Linked DNA regions of Homo sapiens: regions 1 and 3 are each linked to region 2. Evidence: fine-mapped expression QTL. A gene starts in region 2. Each other region holds a variant in brackets. All regions are shown on one strand. Distances are from middle to middle. Region 1 holds the start of LOC124901818 (protein GVQW1-like). Region 2 holds the start of CUL1 (cullin 1). Region 3 holds the start of C7orf33 (chromosome 7 open reading frame 33).

Evidence for each region. PIP is the estimated chance that this variant, and not a neighbour inherited with it, causes the effect.
Region 1: its variant is the best candidate, but not a certain one, in a credible set for the expression of CUL1 in whole blood (INTERVAL, PIP 0.87).
Region 3: its variant is the best candidate, but not a certain one, in a credible set for the expression of CUL1 in whole blood (INTERVAL, PIP 0.54).

What each region holds. Positions count from the first base shown.
Region 1 is chr7:148,605,537-148,611,832 of GRCh38, reverse strand. The region is part of intron 1 of C7orf33 (chromosome 7 open reading frame 33); the gene reads right to left. It overlaps LOC124901818 (protein GVQW1-like), which reads left to right and starts at 3,425. Exons shown (of 3, transcript XM_047421175.1): 1 at 3,425-3,552. The coding sequence starts at 3,425. RefSeq lists enhancers at 1-142, 143-643, 3,875-4,594. The variant A/G (reference allele first, on the strand shown) is at 2,939.
Region 2 is chr7:148,695,424-148,701,719 of GRCh38, reverse strand. CUL1 (cullin 1) reads right to left here and starts at 2,817. Exons shown (of 22, transcript NM_003592.3): 1 at 2,691-2,817. RefSeq lists silencers at 1,813-1,912, 2,213-3,242, 3,903-3,962 and enhancers at 1,790-2,515, 3,583-3,632.
Region 3 is chr7:148,590,160-148,596,455 of GRCh38, reverse strand. It overlaps C7orf33 (chromosome 7 open reading frame 33), which reads right to left and starts at 5,690. Exons shown (of 3, transcript NM_145304.4): 1 at 5,327-5,690. The coding sequence starts at 5,530. RefSeq lists a silencer at 2,333-2,533. The variant C/T (reference allele first, on the strand shown) is at 2,690.

The DNA.
Region 1 (6,296 bases), 90 kb after region 2:
GCTCTTGGCCCCGCAGCAATGTCTAGGGGTGGGTGTCTGCAACTCCCAAAGCCCAGGTGGGCACGTGTAACCCAAGCTCTTTCAGATTTGCCATCTGCAGATGGCTTGTGTGCTAATCAGCTCAATGGACCCTCTGCCTTATTGCAAGGGCAGAGGGCCAGTGTGACAGCCTCTGTTCCCTGAGCTCTGGCCCAGTGTCCCAGAAGAATCGGATCACACATGGGCTCGAAGGATAAGTGCAAGTTTTTATTGAGTGATGGAGGCGGCACTCAGCAACATGGATGGGGAGCCGGAAGTTGAAGGGGTGGGGGAAATAATCTTTCCCTGGAGTTGGGCTGCCCAGCAGCCGGACCCTTCTCCAACCACCCCTGGCCGACCTTCCCTCGGCATCAAGACGTCCCTCTTTTTCTTCTCTGCTGCATCGTTCTGCTGTCACTGGTCTGCTGGTCTCGACATTCAGCTGCTTGTGTGTGTACCCACTAAGGTCTTGGGTTTATATGGGTACAGGATGGGGGGCTTGGTTGGCCAGGGTGGTCTTGGAAAATGCAACATTCAGTCATGAAAACAGGAGTGCCTGTTCCCACTTAGATCTGTGGCACAGGCTTGAGGGTGGAGCCCTCACCAGGGACCTGGCCCTTCTCTACCCAGCACTTCCCTGCCCAACTCCCATGTCACTAGTTATGGGGAAGGGCTGTTTGGGGAAAGCCATAGCTTTTGCTAGAGGAATATGGCTACTGCCCACCTACAGTCTGGCAAGGAGCACGCTGGAGGAATCATACCTCCAACTCTCTTTCCTCTCACTCTGTCATCTCCTGCCCATACCATCTTAGTCGAACCCAATTCACACCAGGAACAAGGTGGCCTAGTTGATACAGTCCATAAGGCCAGCCTCTGGGGCCACAGAACAAGAAGGTGGAGAAGAATGAGGGGTGGATTGTGGAGCAGAAGGAGAACATCCAGTGAAGTCACTAGGTGGTGAGTCAGACACTTTGTCCTTTTGGTGGGGGAGCAATTTACACTGAAGATAATGCTCTCATCTTGTTTTTTAACTAGCCCTGCCCCATTGCTGTCCCTTTACCCAGGAATGCTTGTCCCCCATACTATGTAAAATTTGATCTCTCACAAGGCTCAGCTCAGAAGCCACCTTCTTCTTGCTGCCATTCCTCATAATTTGCTCAGAAGTGATCTCCCTCCTCGGAAGTTGTATTAGGGTTCCCCAGAGCGACAGAACTAATAGGATATATATACACACATAAAATATTATATGAAGGGGAGTTTATTAAGTAATAACTCACATGCTCACAAGGCTCCACAATAGGCTGTCTGGAAGCTGAGGAGAAAGGACAGCCAGTCCGAGTCCCAAAACTGAAGAACTCGGAGTCTGATGTTCAAGGGCAGGAAGCATCGAGCACGGGAGAAAGAGGTAGGCTGGGAAGCTAGGCCAGTCTAGTCTTTTCACATTTTTCTGCCTGCTCTATATTCTAGCTGTGCTGGCAGCTGATTAGATGGTGCCCACCCATATTAAGGGTGGTCTGCCTTTCCCAGCCCACTGACTCAAAAGTTAATCTCCTTTGGCAACACCCTGACAGACACACCCAGGATCAATACTTTGCATCCTTCAATCCAATCAAGTCGACAGAATTAACCATCACAGAAGTCTTACTTGTGGATCAAACTTCCCACAAAGTGATTCTACCTTTTCTTGTTGTTTACAGATACCTCATATGACTCTCACTGTGCAATAAAGTCCAGATGGAACCATTTTTATTTATCTTTGTGCCTCTTGCAGAACCTGCACAGTTTGCTGATGTTACACAGTGCCTCAGCTCAGAATGGATTTGGGATCAGGCATTATTGAGTCTTCTTGGAATCTGCTAGTTGGAAGGGTCCTCAGATGTACTTCCGTTTTTAACTTAGCCATTTCAAGCTCCTACTCAGCGAAGACTCCCCCTCCAGGTGGGGGACACTGTTGGTAGCCCACTCAGCATTTCTCCTTCTTCCTGTAACAGAGGCCTGACTTTTTCCAACCCTCCACCCTCCACTAAGCGGCCAAGTATCAGAGGGAAAGCTTATCCTGGGCTGAAATAATTTAAGGATAATATGTTCCCTTTTGTCAAGAATTGGTTTAGAAATGGAAATGTGACCAAGTTGTGGCTGCAGAGCCTCGGGGAGAGATTTGCTTGTGATTTCCAAGGAAGTCCTTCCTCCCTCCTTAGAGAGAAAGTCCAGTTGTTATTGGCAGCCACTTTACACCTAGGAGGACAGCCAACTTCAAGATGAAGATGTCAGTATAGATTGTGGGCTGGGATTTGAAAATCTGAGCTGTTGCTAACATCACTGAGGGTAACCTAAAGTCTGCTTTATCTCTGAAATTCTCTTTTTATGAATAAGTATATTTCCTTTTTGAAAAGACCTTTGAGTTGGGGTTTCTGTTACTCTGTATGTGAAAGGAGGCCCATATGCCCTGCCATTGTTTTCCTCTTCAACTCTGCTGATATAAGAGCCAAAATATAATTGAAGAGCTCTATGAATGTTTAGACTAGCTCTGTGCCCAGGAATGTAAGAATGGTTTGTAACAGAGACCCTGTCAAGCCTGAAACATGATATCTCATTTTACTAGTAGCTAGTACTCAGGGGGATGGGAGTTAGTACTGTATTTATTCCAGAATCTTGTTGATGTGCTACCTCTTCTCCATTACATTGGGCCTGATTTTTTTTTTTTTTTTTTTCAAAATAACGTCTTTGCAACGTGAAAGGTATTTTCTATTTCACACACATGAAAACCCCTTTGCTTCCTCAAGGTAAGAATGAACCTTAAGCTCTTATCCCAGGTAGATCAGCAACAATATTTGCCAAAGCAAAGCCATGTTTCCAAAAGAGGCCTTTCCACCCAGCATTCTTAGCAGGACCTGATGCTTCACACTAGGGAGGCAATAGG[A/G]CTGTTTTTACAGCAAATGGACAAGCCACATTCACAGTGAGATTTGTTTTGCCTTTCCTTGCAATTTATTTATTTCCTGAGACAGAGTCTTGCTCTGTCGCCCAGACTGGAGTGCAGAGGTGTGACCGTGGCTCACTGCAACCTCCGCCTCCCAGGTTCAAGCGATTCTCCTGCCCTCAGCCTCCCCGAGTAGCTGGGACTACAGGCATGCGCCACCACGCCTGGCTTATTATTGCATTTTTAGTAGAGACGGGGTTTCTCCATGTTGGCCAGGATGGTCTCGATCTCCTGACCTCAGGTGTCTGCCTGCCTTGGCCTCCCAAAGTGCTGGGATTACAGGCATGAGCCACTGAGCCACGGCAATTTAGATGGGAAGTCAAACCAGCTCTTAAGTCCATGTCGAGTGATTATTGGAGTCACTTTGGCAGGCAAGGGGAGGGGACTTATTATTATTATTATTATTTCGAGATGCAGTCTCACTCTGTCGCCCAGGCTGGAGTGCAGTGGCCTGATCTCGGCTCACTGCAACCTCCGCCTCCTGGGTTCAAGCGATTCTCCTGCCTCAGCTTCCCAAGTAGCTGGGACTACAGGCGCGCACCACCATGCCCAGCTAATATTTTTGTATTTTTAGTGGAGACGGGGTTTCACCATGTTGGCCAGGATGGTCTTGACATCTTGACCTCGTGATCCGCCTGCGTCAGCCTCCCAAAAGTGCTGGGAATACAGGCGTAAGCCACAGCACCCAGCCTGGGGCTCATTATTGACAGAATTTCTGGTTACCTAATTAGCAATTTCCAAGCACTTGTCTTTCTGGGTAGAAAGATCTCATTTTCCTTCATCTATTTTTTTAAGCAGGAATGGACAAAGCCTTTAATTGGCGTTTGAGAGGGAGTGAGGTAATACGCTGGAAGTAAAGGCAGAGATTGAAGGCCATTTTATCGGGCACCTGTGGCTGAAGAATTGAAAAAAATCATCAATTAGGAAAGGGAGAAAACTAGGGGTTTGGAGCCAGGAAAGAAGGAAGAAAAATGTATTAAGAGGAAGAAAGAATATAGGAATACAAAAGAGTATAAGTGTCAGGCTCGCCTGGGTACGATTAAAGAAACATATTTAAACCCGATACGCTTTCTTGTGGTAACAGACAAAAAATACGTTTGTTGGTGATTCCTAAGTGAAAATATCCTGCAGGACTTTTTTTTAAGGTTGGTCAAAAAACTCAAAGAAAAATATTTTTTGAGTCATATTTTCTAAAGGCTGTGGTCTTCTGATCAGTCAGATAGGAAGCATTTATTGCCTAAAATCAAGCAGGAAGGATCTGTTCTTTTTCTGAAGTCCTGTAGTGGCATAAAACTGACCTCCTAAGAAATTCTTCCTTGTCTCTTTTTAATCAATAAATCTACATTCTAGGGAAATTGACCATTGCTTCCAGACATGTGTGGGAGTCCAGAACATGCCACTCCAAAAGGAGGATTGTCGAGCTGAAGACAATTAAGAAGAAACAGATGCAGGAAAGCTCTCTGCCCTCCATTTGCTTAAATGCAGGACAGAGATTTACAAGATAAAAGACATCCTGCCCCTGTCTTTTACCAGGGAGAACAAAGGTTAACCACTGAAGACAGTTTTAGACCATTATCTGCCAGGAGTAGGAGCCAGAGGAATCTACCTGAACATGCTTTACCAACTCGCTTTTATCTGCCGGTTACTTGCTTCCCCGCAGAGAAGTCCCCTCTAGAGACCCAAAGTCCTTTTCCTTTGTCCTGTCACTTCTCTAAAAATCACTATTCTTTGTTGAAGATGCTATACAAGCTGGAATTCAAAGCTATTTCTTTGAGAACTACTCCTTCCCTGGGTGTCTGCCATGAGAACTACTCCTTTCCTGGGTGTCTGCCATGTAGATGTGAAATATACATGTAAATAAACTTGTTTTTCTCGTGTGTGTGTGTGTGTGTGTGTGTGTGTGTATTTTTTTTTTAAATGGGGTCTATTCCAACTAAGAACCTTATGAGGTGGCCAGACGCGGTGGCTCACGCCTGTCATCCCAGCACTTTGGGAGGCCAACGTGGGTGGATCACCTGAGGTCAAGAGTTCGAGACCAGCCTGGCCAACGTGACGAAATCCCGTCTCTACTAAAAATACAAAAATTAGCTGGGCATGGTGGTGGGTGCCTGTAATCCCAGCTTCCTGGGAGGCTGAGGCAGGAGAATCACTTGAACCTGGGAGGTGGAGGTTGCAGTGATGCAGTGAGCTGAGATCACGCCACTATACTCCAGCCTGGGCAACAGAGCAAGACTCCGTTTTTGTTTGTTTGTTTTTAAAAGACCTATGAGGATTGAGGAAACAATGATTTTTCTTCCCCTACACATGATTTTGTGTCTGCTGCATATTTTTTTTTGTTTGTAATATCAATGTTTCTCAAAGTGGTCTGTGGGCTACCAACTTCAGCATCACCTGGGATGCTTGTTAAAAAGTATATGTTGTAGGTTCCACACCCGCTGCAATGACCCAGCATCTCCAGAGGTGAGGTATTTTTGACAGTATCCCAGATTTTGATAAATTCTAATGTTGAGAAACAGTGGTCTAGATTTTAAGACAAGATCCATGTCATTTATTTTTGTTCCCTTCTGATGCCTAGCACATAGAAGGTACTTGATAAATATTTTTTGGAGAGATGAATCTAAGAAAAGTGTAACTGTCTAAAAACTTGCCTCCGAATTTCTTTACTGTCCTGTCCCTACCTATCTGCAGAGCGAGCCTTATCTGTCTGTTCATAATCTTCTGCATGTTGGGATTTGTGGTGGTGATGGTGGGTGCAGCAATGTGAAAGGCATTAGGAGCTTGTCTTGCCCAGATGATTCCTGCAGGATGAACATGGCTGGGCTTCCATCTGTTTAAGCCTCGTTCTCAGGCCATTCTGTTTATCCTATAAACCACCCAGGATCATTTCAAGAAGTTAGTTTTCTATTTAAGTTCACCAGTGTAGTCAGGGTCTGGCCAAGAGATAGTATACACACAAGTTAGCTGAACAGTAAGAATTTAATATAAAAAGTGTTAACTAGGTAAAAATGTGTTCATTATAAAGTTGTAACAGGATAAAAAGAGAACTCTAAGGTCTCATAGAGGTAGCAACTGCAGCGTCCACTCCCAGGGTTAAAGAAACAATAAGAAAGGGAACAAGTAGGAACTTAGAGGTGGGGCACCTGGAGCTAAAACTCAGACCTTCAAGGTGGGGGCTCTGCACTGGTTCTGGTGAATATGAGATGGGCCGTATGAGGTCAGGTCTGCAAGTGCTAGAAAAACTGCAAACTGCAAACCACATTCAAAAGCTTCTGCAGAAAGGAAGTGCTGCTGCCGGGGTGAA
Region 2 (6,296 bases):
ACTGGGAATGACATTCTGATGAATGGCCCTCAGAGACCAAGGGATGGTTCCTCCTACAGCAACTTCCTATCCCACTCCAGCAGAACCATGGGGCTTGCCTCATCTACAAGGAGGAGCCTTAACTACCAAACTGCTTCATTGCAAAGGCAAGGCTGGATACTCAACCTGGGGGGAAAAACCTGATCGTGTTTCCAAAAAAACACCAAACACAAAAAGTAAAAACATCCACACCTTAAAACTAGTTTTAAGGGGGAAAAAAGTTAAAGTTTCACAACCTGTTTTCTTGGCACTTTCCCAGACTTCCATAGGTATAGAAAACCTGGGCATTTTTCTGTTAGGGCCCTGTACTAGATACTGGGGTGTTTCAGGGAGAAGGGAAGTGAAGAGGGAAGGGGGAATAGAAAAGGAGGGATGAGAGAGACGATCAATTTTACTCGAGAAGTGTATAATAAAGCTTGAATTCTTAACCGGCTTAAGCACAACGACTGTGTTTTCTGTAGCCAAAAATCAGCGCATGTTTTCAAACGTTAAGTTTAAGTTAGAATTATTCCAGAAAACTCATTCATTAAAAAAAAGCAACTGAGGCACCACCACAACCAAGTTCTGTTACTCTGGGGACGCAAAAACAAATAAGGAATATCTCCTGCGCTGGAGGAATTCACAATCGGAAATGTATGGGAAATAAGGCTGTCATGTAGTTAATTACAGCTAGAAGATAATATTCAGTAAGTGGCAAGAGTCTAATGAACTGTAATATCTAAGGAAACCATGCAGAATCAGCTCAGGCATGCGTGTCTGTCTTCTGATGTGGTACACACATTAGGAGTGGGGGGTGGGGCTGGCTATAAGGACCTGAGCATGTGGCTCTCAGGGAGGGAGGCTTTTATAAATTGGTGAAAAACCCTAGCATATCTAAATTTGGTTTGTTTTTTGACAAAATCGTTTTTAAAAGATGAAGCCAATGAGAAAAAAAGTTTAACATATTTAGAAAGCAATTCAGCCATCCCTCTCAAGCTTAAGGAACACTCTCCTGAAACCTCCAAAAATGGGCATTAATAGAGTTAAAGCGAGCCAGTCTTGTGTTTGCATGCTTTGGAATTTGAAATGTAACGCAACTATTTCGACTCACCATGGAAAACAACAAATAGAACCTTCAAGTAAAACATTTTTCAATATCCAAAAACAAACCTTCTTTAAACAAAGAAAAATCTCATCTCCAAATATCTTTTTCAAACAGAATGACTGGTTTTACATTTTAAACATCATTACATATTTTACTACGTAATACACTCTCCAGGATTTCAGAAAATCGGGTACATTTTCGGGTGCACCATGAAATGAAGTGTTAAACTTAAAACTGCACACACTTCTGCGAGGCGTTAAGCTATGCTTAGGTCCTAGAAGCTCATGGCTTGAAGTAAAAAAGGAATCTAGTTCCTCTTCTGCCGCTTCGTTAAGTGCATTCCAAAAAGTGTGATCGTTTACTCCACTCAGAACTTTTGACGATTTTAATGCTACTACAGGAAAGAGCAATTACACAGAGCAAACAAATATTTAAGTAGACTGCAATTCAGTATTTGCGCACTTACCACTAACCCCTACTACGAACCAGAAGCAACCAAGAGTGACCCAATCGGAAAAGAGAATCCTCTTTTTGGCAAAGCCAGCCAGGGAGAAAACCCTAACTTTGGGGATTCATTTCAAGGAATGTCTACAAGCATTCCTCTCTTTCTTATCTTATGTCTGCGCTACACAATACTGCACGGGTGGCAGAAACGGGGGTCTTTCAGATCTTAAGGGAAAAAAAAGCGACGACCCCCGAGTCTGGGGACCCCAAGTCCCAGCGGCCTGGCGGGCGCACGGCTACCCTCAGGGTCAGGGCGCGCGCTCCCGTTGGGACCGGGGGCGCGCCGAGGCCGCAGCGCAGGGCCCGGCCCGACTAGCGAGCGATAGGCGGGCGCCGGGGGGCTCTGTCCGGTTCGGCCGCCGGGCTAGCATCCCTGCGCGCATGCCCCGGCCCGCTCTCCCAGGAGAACGGGGCAAAAGGGCGACTGTTACCCAATAATAGCGCCCTGCACGTTCGCAACAATGCAGGCGGGGAACCCGAGAGCCGCGGGCAGGGAACCGGAAAGCGAGAGAGCCCGGCTCCGCGGCTGCTCCTGCGCTTGAGCCCAGAGCTCACAGGGGAACACGCGTCGGCCGGAAAGCAGCGCCGGGAAGAAGCGTGGGCGCGAGGGGGCAAGGGCACGGGTCCCGGCGTCCCGCGGAGGTCGCCTCACCAGGCGAGGCGCGGACGCCCGAGCCGCCCCGGGCCACACGTCGGCCCACCCTCCGAGAACCCAGCCCGGTCGCGGCGGGGAAAGGGGCCGGCGCCACCAGGCCGCCGCCTCCAGGCGCGATGAATCGTGCTTTTTCCCAGTGCGTAGTCCAGGCCTGGCCGCCCCGGCCCGTCCGGGGTGACTCAGGGCCCGGCCCCGCTCGCTCCTCTGCCACCTTCGGCGTCCTCCGCCCACGAGTCCCCCGGCCCGGCCGCCATTCTGCCCGGCCGCGTTTCGGCGGCTCAGGCCTCGCCAGGCGCCTGGTTTCGGCCGTCGCGGCCCGAGTCACTGCGACACCGCGGCTCGGGGCCGGGCCTGCGCCGCCGCCGCCGCCGCCACCTCCTCTCGGCCCCGGCGGCTGCCGACACTCACCCGCATCTCTGTGGTGCCCCAAAGGCTCCCGCGACGCCTCCGCCTGGTCCCTGGGCCTGGGCCCCGGCGAAAGCCCCGTCCCGCCAAGGTCTAGCTGCGTCCCTCAGCTACCGGGGCTGCCCCGCCTGGAGCTGCGTGCGACACGGCGCCCGCCTCCTCCTCCTCCCCTGCCCGCCCGGCCCTCCTCCTCCCGCCGCCGCCGCCTGCACCACGCAACCTCCGCCCTCTCGCCTTCCCTGCGCGGCTCCCCGCCCTCTCGGCCTCACCGGCTCCGGCGACCGCGGGGGAGAAGCTGTTGGGGGAGGGCCGGAACGCACCGCCATCGGCGTCCGGGGCGGGGGAGCCGGGAAACCGTCGTCGCCATCGCCCCGCCAGCCCGAGGCGCGGGAGGGGCCCGGAAAGCTCCCTCCCGCCCGCTCGCCGCTGCCGGCGGCCCCGGGGGCGCCCCTTCCGCGGCCGAGGCCCCCGCTCGCGTGGGGAAGCTTCTACCTGCGAGCCTGCGGCCCCTGCCCCCGGCACCCGAGACATCCCCGACCCGGCGCGCCGGATTCTCTGCCAGGTTTTACAGCCTCCCTCGCCTTGGGACCGCCGCGGAGGACCCGTTCCCGCCACTTCGGACCTCGCGAGCGGGGCTGAGCTGCTTGGGTCGGGGACACCACCAGCCTCTGGAGAAACGGCCCGAAGCACCCCGAAGAAGAGGGGGTCCCAGTCCCCTGCCCCTCCCTTGTGCGCACCCCCACCCCCAGCTTGCCTGGAACCTGACTCCACACCTTTGTCGACCGGGACAGGGACTGGGGGTTGCACCCCAGATCAGAAAGTCAGAGGTGGCCCTCCGAATCGGCGCGGACTTCCGAGGAACCTCAGCCAATTCTCGACCCCCTTACCACCTGCAAGGCCTTAGGAATCGGCTCCAGAAAGCTCGAGCTTATCTGCGTGTTTCGTTTTAAAAATCACTTCTAAGATAAAACCTAACTAGGCTTTCCCCTTCAGACTTTCAGTAACTCCTGTTTGGCAAATTTTGACATTCACTCTATCCTTCGTCTTTGTAAGGACATATCAAGACTTAGAAGGCTTTGATTACACATACGGATGGCATGAGTCGTGATATAAAATAGTATTGTTTTCACGTGTACTTCGAAGTCATCTCATTTGAAATTAACTGTCATAATTGACTATTTGGAATATTCAACCTAAATACTACCCGCTGCTGTGGTGACGGGGGGTGGAGGAAGCGTGGTGGAACCCCAACACCTAGTGAGGGGTGGCTGATTAATACCACGGCTCACAACATAACAGAGCGGCTCATTCCATGAACAACCCCGGGGGGATTTCGAATTCTATCATCTGGGCAAAAGATGTGATGAGTGTAACTTCCTGTTTTCTCCAAACTAAAACACTACGCAGATTCCTGTACCGCTCTGGGACAGAAATCCTCAGCCAGAGCAGAGGCCGTCCCCAGAGTCCACACTGTTTCCTGCATAAAGTGGGTTATCTCAGAAGAAACATCCCACTGGTCTGTGTGATCCTTCTATTGAAATGTGGTCTTTTATCTACATCTAAGTATCTCTAGAAGTAATGCGTTTGTATGTACTTGTCACTCAGATATGTAATCCCTTAATTTGTGCGGGGTTTTGGGGTGTGAAAAATTCTTGGTTTATATCCTACACTTTTAAATAACCTCGTCAAAACTTACATGTATTTAACACCTTTTTTTGTGAGCACATGGTAAGGTTGGAAGTAAAAATGGAAGGTTTATCCCTGTGGCCCATGTTTTCCAGTGTACCTATGTGGGGTTTTAAAAAAATGTCCCAATTTCTTCCTTTTACTGGAGACTGCGTTTTTTAGACAACAGCTTATCTTCCTATTCCCTAACCAGTCTTCTCCAATCTTACCATTCAATATAGCCTCCTTTTCTGTGACTTCCTCCAGCTGAATAGAAGGGCTGAGTGGGTCAACCTTCCCTGTATTGTTTGTTTCCTCCACCCTCTCTTTTTCCTTAATAGCAGTATTTGGTCCACCCACACCACCCTCTCTCTTCTCACTGCCTCCATTCCTGGTTCTTAACTCCTTTCTATTCTTTACTCTCCACCTGCCTACACGATCATTCTTAGCAGCAAATTTATTCCATCGACTTTTACGTCCACTTAACATCCAGATTGCATTTACTTTGCGCAGATAACCTTGCCGCCTACCTCACAAGTCAAGGCCACCTGCTGCTCTCTTTCTACTTTAAAACATCCTTCCTCCATCTTTACCCCCCAACTCAGCAAAATTGATGTCTCTCTCGGATGACCCAAAGTTTGGAGGGATAATTAATTTGATAGATGTCAGAATCAAAGTTCAAAACAGTCTCAACAGGCTACAACATTAGGCCAAAAGCAATGAAATAAAATATAACTTTCAAATCTAAATATGATGTACTAGCTGGAAAAGCCCAAGTTTTAGATTTTAGACCTTGGTTTGTATCTAGTTACCCAAATTTGAGTCATATCCAGTAACTCAAATTACTATCTTTTGCTCTAGTAAGGTCAACTGTTAATTTGAGATAAAAATACCTACTTCATAAGAGTGTGAAGAGTAATTTATTTATAATTCCCACGTAATTCGTGGAACATTCACCAACCATTAGTTCCCCTCCCTTCCTCATCGTCCACAAAGTGGTTGTCTCTGTTGCCATTCATAACACATTCTTTAATTCATACAGACCTGGAAACAGACTCAAAATCCTGGCCCGTTCACCTTGTATCCCAGAGCTGTCACCATCGTAGAGAAATCGTTTGCCTCTTTTGGGTCAGTCATTATCATCATCATACCCATTTTTTCAATGAAAAAACCTAAGGCTCAGAGATGTTAGGCAATTTGCTCCAAATCACTCAGCCTGATCAGTGGCATAACCTGACCCAGTGACTCATGATTCTGTGTATATCCACTCCTTTACTAAGATATTCTCCCACACTTATGTTGGTCCTTTAGCCTTCTAAATGCTTTTCCTGGTTCTTATCTCTTTATCCTTCCACTTGTGTCCTGACTGATGGCAGATTATTCCTTCTAAACTGATACCTTCATCATTATAATTTTGTCCTTTCAAGCTTCAGTGGTTCCATATTGTTTATAGTGTTCAATCCAAATTTGGACCTGGCACTTAAGGTTTACCAGATCTTGTCCAAACTTGCATTTCCAAATTTATTTCCTGCCACTTCCCAGAAGGAACTCTCAATGCCATCCGGTCCTGTTGGTTGTACTCACTGGCCCACAGATGAGCTGTGAGTCGCCATTTATGAGGGCCTCCTTCAGTTGTTCCCTTAACAGATACCATTTCCCACTTCTTTCCTCCATCTCCAAATCATGCTCACTTTTCAAGATCCAGCTCACACCCCCTCCCAGGAAGCCCACCTTACACCTTCTACCCAAGCTTTGTGATCTCTCCCTGATTGCCTGTTCACATGTGCCTTTAAACTAGGTGGTCTGTGCTGTGGGGTGAGAGACAATTTCCTAAGGTTCACCTGCCCCCTCAGCACTGTGCCCAAAGAACACTGAAGCAGATTCCAAGCAAATTTGCTTACTACTGAAATGAAAGGGTACAGGTGTTACTTGATTAACCATATG
Region 3 (6,296 bases), 110 kb after region 2:
AAACTTATTTCTTTTGTAAATTGCCCAGTCTCAGGTATCAGCAGCGTGAGAACAGACTAATACAGCAGTGAATGAGACTGTAACAGAAGATGCATGACCTTATGTATTTGTCCAAACCCACTGTAATCTAAACTATAAACTTCAGGTGATAATACATCAATGTTGGTTCATCAGTTGTAAAAAATCCACCATTCTGGTGGGGGAAGTTGATAGGGAGGGAGGTTGTGCATGTGTGAGGGCAAGAGGTACCAGAAATCTCTATTTTCTGCTCAGTTTTACTGTGAACCTAAAATGGCTCTAAAAATATAAAGTTTATTATATAAAAGTATATAAGTCCACATTTCTGTGAAGGCAGTTCTTTTTTTAAAACACGAACTCTGCATCAACTGCAGAATAGAGATTATAACTGGAATGTTTAATGTTAACCTAAAATATATTTGAAAAAAAAATTTAATTGCACACAACCTGTTGCAATTTTGTAGTTACTCATTTTCTTGCCAGTATTCTCAGTAATCTGTGATCATGGTTAAACATTGGTTAATGTGATAAATTTAATGGTTATGACCTGGGTAAGCCACAGCATCCTCTCATAAAATGAAGTCCAATCAGCTTTAAGGTCAAGGTAAAAATAGGAATAGCATAGGTTAAAAGAAGCAAGCAGGCCAGGCACAGTGGCCTGCTTGAGATATAGATATATATATATATTATATCTATATAACATAGATGTATATTATATATAATATATATAATATGTATATCTATATAATATAGATCTATATTATATCTATATAATATAGATCTATATTATATCTATATAATATAGATGTATATTATATATAATATATATAATATGTATATCTATATAATATAGATCTATATTATATATATTATATAGCTATATGTTATATATAATACAGATCTATATTATATATACTATAGCTATATAATATATAATATAGATCTATAGTATATATAATATATAATAGCATATATATAGCTATATAATATATATCTATATTATATAGATATATCTATATAATATAGATCTATATTATCTATGATATATCTATATAATAGAGATCTATATTATATTTGATATATCTATATAATATAGATCTATATTATATAGATATATCTATATTATATATTATATATCTATATAATATATATCTATATAATATAGATATCTCTATATTATACATGATATATATCTATATAATATATATCCATATAATATAGATATTATATAATATACTCAGGAGGCTGAAGCAGGAGGATCGATCACTTGAACCCAGGAGGTCAAGGCTGCAGTGAGCCGTGAATGTGCCACTGCACTCCAGCCTGTCTCAAAAAATACAAAACAAACAAAAGAAAACCTGACCTGGTGAATATTCAGAAACTATTAAGTGAAAAGCTGGTGCTCATTGTTAGGTGGTCAGGACTTTCTGCTTCTTAAGAGTCCCTAATGATTCCCAGGGCCAAGCATGTTCAGATGGGGACACTGTCTTGTGGCTCACTGTTGTCTCATGTAAGCAGGAGCGGCTGGGAGTGCAGGCTGCAGGCTGTACTTGCTGTTAGGTTCCTGAACCATAACATTAACATAGACATTGTCCTTCTTTTGAATAGAAGACAAATGATCCACAGTGGTACCATGCCAAACCTCACTCTGTAAGGATATATTGGACTGAAATATATTGAATATATTCCCAAATTCAAATATATTGAATTTCATCATATTTTCCCTAAACCATTTGGTTTCACATTTCCCTAAACAATTTGGTTGGATTATATCTCCCTACAAACTGTCACCCTCCTTCTGCCAAGCAAATGAAATGATAACTGTTCTGCATTTTACTTGGGTGTCATCTTAGTACCCTTACTGGTAAGTTGGTATCATCTTTCCTCTTACTTCTTGTATTAGGCTGTTTTTGCATTGCTGTAAAATACCTAAGGCTGGGTAATTTATAAAGAAAAGAGGTTGGTCGGGCGCGGTGGTTCACGCCTGTAATCCCAGCACTTTGGGAGGCCGAGGCGGGCAGATCACAATGTCAGGAGATCGAGACCATCCTGGCTAACATGGTGAAACCCCGTCTCTACTAAAAAATACAAAAAATTAGCCTGGCATGGAGGCGGATGCCTGTAGTCCCAGCTACTCGAGAGGCTGAGGCAGGAGAATGGCACGAACCCGGGAGGCGGAGCTTGCAGTGAGCCAAGATCGTACCACTGCACTCCAGCCTGGGCGACAGAGCGAAGACTCTGTCTCAGAAAAAAAAAAAAAAAAAAAGAAAAGAGGTTTAATTGGCTCATGGTTCTGCAGGCTGTACAGGAAACATGGCGTCTGCTCGGCTTCTGGGGAGGCCTCAAGGAGCTTTCACTCATGACGGAAGGCAAAGTAGAAGCAGGCACATCGAACAGCAAAAGTGAGAGCAAGAAAGCAAGAGAAGGTGCCACACACTTAAACAACCCGATCTTGTGAGAACTCACTCACTATCGCAAGGACAGCACCAAGAGGATGGCGCTAAACTATTCATGACAAATCCACCCCCATGATCCAATCACCTCTCATTAGGCCCCACCTCCAACACTAGGGATCACATTCCAGCATGACACTTAGCCGGGCAAATATTCAACCATGTCACTTCTTTTCCAGCAGGCATCTCTCTGGGCTCTGACCCTTTCCTGTCAATCC[C/T]AGTTGGGAGTCTCCGTTTCTACAATCCCCTCCAAACAGGCTGTATCCCCCGACCCTGGCTTCATGCTCAGCCTTTCCTAAATGCATTAAACACCCAGTCAGAGGAAAAGCATTTTGACTTCAAATTAACATTTAAAATAAAAACTAACTTTAAAACATGTTATTATGAAGGCAATAGAGATTCTCTATTTAAAGAAATTCAGGCCAGTTGCAGTGGCTCACACCTGTAATCCCAGCACTTTGGGAGGCTGAGGCAAGCAGATGATTTGAGGTCAGGAGTTCGAGACCAGCCTGGCCAACATGGTGAAACCTCGACTCTACTAAAAATACAAAAAAATTAGCTGGGAGTGGTGGCAGGTGCCTGTAATTCCCGCTACTTGGGAGGCTAAGGCAGGAGAATTACTTGAATCCAGGAGGCGGATGTTGCAGTGAGCCAAGATTGAGCCATTGCACTCCAGCCTGGGTAACAAGAGCAAGACTCCATCTCAAAATGAATAACAAAAATAAAGAAATTCAGAACATTCTGAGCTTTGGAAAAATAATACGTAACTCATAGTGCCATCCATAGACAACCACTTTGAGACTTTGCTGTATCTTCCAGTGATCTAATTAGATTTAAATCGTGTCGGCCAGGCATGTTGGCTCATGCCTGTAATCCCAGGACTTTGGGAGGTGAGGTGGGTGGATCACTTGAGGTCAGCAGTTTAAGACCAGCCTGGTGAACATGATGAAACCCTGTATCTACTAAAAATACAAAAATTAGTAGGATGTGGTGGTGGGTGCCTGTAATCCCAGCTACTGGGGAGGGTGAGGCAGGAGAATCATTAGAACTCAGGAGGTGGACGTTGTAGTGAGCTGAGATCGTGCCATTGCACTTCAGCCTGGGTGACAAGAGTGAAACTCCATCTCAAAAAAACAATAATAAAAAAAAGATTTAAATCATATCTACCCTGCTGGGGCACAGTGGCTTCCACGTGAAATCCCAGCACTTTGGGAGGTTGAGGCAGGCAGGTCACCTGAGATCAGGAGTTTGAGACCAGCCTGGCCAACATGGTGAAACCCTGTCTCTACTAAAAATACAAAAATTAGCTGGGCATGGTGGCGTGCACCTGTAATCCCAGCTACTTGGGAGGCTGAGACAGGAGAATCGCTTGAACCCAGGAGGCAGAGGTTGTAGTGAGCCAAGATCACGCCACTGTACTCCAGCCTGGGCGACAGAGCTAGACTCCATCTCAAAAAAAAAAAAAAAATCCTATCTACCCTATATGCTCCACCCATGCACTTGTGGCATCCTTTAAAAGGAAGGTTTAGGCAGTGATAATCTTTTCTCACCTTCTTTTAAGCACATATACGTCATTGATTATCATTTATATTCATCATTCAGAGACTAATTGTATTGGTTCACATCAAAGTACCCCTGGCTGAGGAGGTATTTTCTTCTTTTTACTCTTCTTATGCTAAATGGGCTTTCCCTGACATGGGCTGTCTGCATCTGACCTTAGCAGCAGGCAGACACAACCCCCTTGCTGACCCTGCAGTTCATGCTGCTGTTCTCAGGGAAAGGTCATGAAATCCTCTCTGCCCTCGAATGACCAGAGTCATTCTTCATATCAGAAGATACTCTGAGCCTGTGGCATGTGTCAGTTTGGGGCACTGTGCCACAATGAGGGTGTGGGCAAATGGGAAGAAGCCAGGAACTGCAACATGGGAGAAAACAAATTAGGGCTGGAGAACTAGGTGGGGACACCTGTGGTTCCCATCAAACTGAACACCCAAAGCTGGAGATAAATACAAAGTGGGAGCTCATACTTTAACCAAAAATGCCTGCCTAGTGGGAGGCAGGGGCTTGGGGATCAGGAGGTGTCAAAGATCAAAGACAGGCAAAGAGTTAAGGATCCAGGTCTTGCTGGGCATGGGTGGCACTTCGGGATGTTGAAGTGGGAGGATCGTTTGAGGACAGGAGTTCAAGACCAGCCTGGGCAACATGGCAAGACCCCATTTCTACAAAAAATAAAAAAATTAGCTAAGCCTGATGGCACATGGCTGTAGTCCTAGCCACCCGGGAGGCTCCTCTGGGAGGATCACTTGAAGCCAGGAGGTTGATGCTGCAGTGAGCTATGATTGTGACACTGCACTCCAGCCTGGGTGACAGAGCAAGATACTATCTCTAAAACAACAACAACAACTCCTGGTCTTTAAAGCGAGAGAAGAGACAAGAATCTAGGCAAGGAGAAGGGAACAGGTGCAAAGCTTGTGCCAAAGGGTGACCAAGATAGAGGCTTCCTGTGGACCCATCTCCAGGGCAAAACATAGTCTGAGAACAAGCGCATTCCTTCTACCACACTGTGTGAAAATATACAATTTTTACGCTGGAATTTTTCAAATCAACATGACTCAGGCTAAACACAAGAATACTCAGTGGAGTGTTTTGTGAGGATTCTTTTCCCTAAGAAGATTCCAGGCCTTCTTTGGGGCAGTGAATTAATCTCTGTCTCTCTCTTTACTTCAATGTCGTTAAGCCCAGTTCCATAACACATAGTAGAGAGTCAAAAACATTCATGGATTGAGTGAATGAATTCTCAAGAGATACTGACTGACTCAAAGAGCAGTTGATTCATCTTAGAATCATTAACTTACCTTATGTCTTCCCGTGGCATATGACAAGTTAAATTGACCTGGACCGCCCCTAACGTGGACCCAAACAGCGACTGCCCTCCCACTCAGGCGAAGGTCAATCCGGCGCCTTGCCCCACTGGGCAGGAGGGCTTCACATTCACATTGGGGGCCTGGAAGTCTCCAGGGACACTCTTCAAGGCTGAGGCTTTGAACTTCCACTTGCATTTTGGCAAAGGTAATTACCTTTCCTGGATGCTGTCAAGGAGAGCGGCGCTTCACCACCAATATCTAAGATCAAGTCGCACGGATCCCCAGGGTCAGTAGGAGGATTCAGACACAGGCTGGGCGCCTCGCTCCTGACCACTGGATTGGCATCACCATAAGTAAGGTCACAGCTGAGTAGAAAATGCCTGAGGCAAAGTGGGGGTGAAAGAGGGGCCACCGAGCAGTGTGATAGGCAGCCCCTTCCGCCAGCTCATTATCCCCACCTGCTCCTGTCGTCTCCTATTAGAATCCTAATGCGAGTTTACGGAAAGTCAGCTGGAGCTTGTCCTCCATGTAATTCAGATCACGTTGCCTGCAGCTCTTAGGTACTCAAATAAACAGAAGGACTAATATTACTACTGAAAAAGTAATTAAGGGCATTCATTGTAAAGTAATAATGATTACCTCACCCTCACCATATGGCCAGAACTGATTAACACCTAGAAGAAATGATCTAAAACCTCTACAATCAGAATTAATGTCTCAGGTCATAATGAGAAACATTTTGTAGCGGGGTTTGGCAGGGAAGGATGAAAAAGTGGTTGGGAGTTTACTAAATCAAGAGGCACAAACAAAATATTGAGGATAACATCCTTTTTCAGGATTTTTCATCTCATTCAGATTAGACAAGTTGCATTTTTAGTGTAGAACCCATATCACAAATGCAAAAAATATTACAAGATTTACACATTGGAATTGTCACTTAATTGGATGAGTTTTTCCTCCA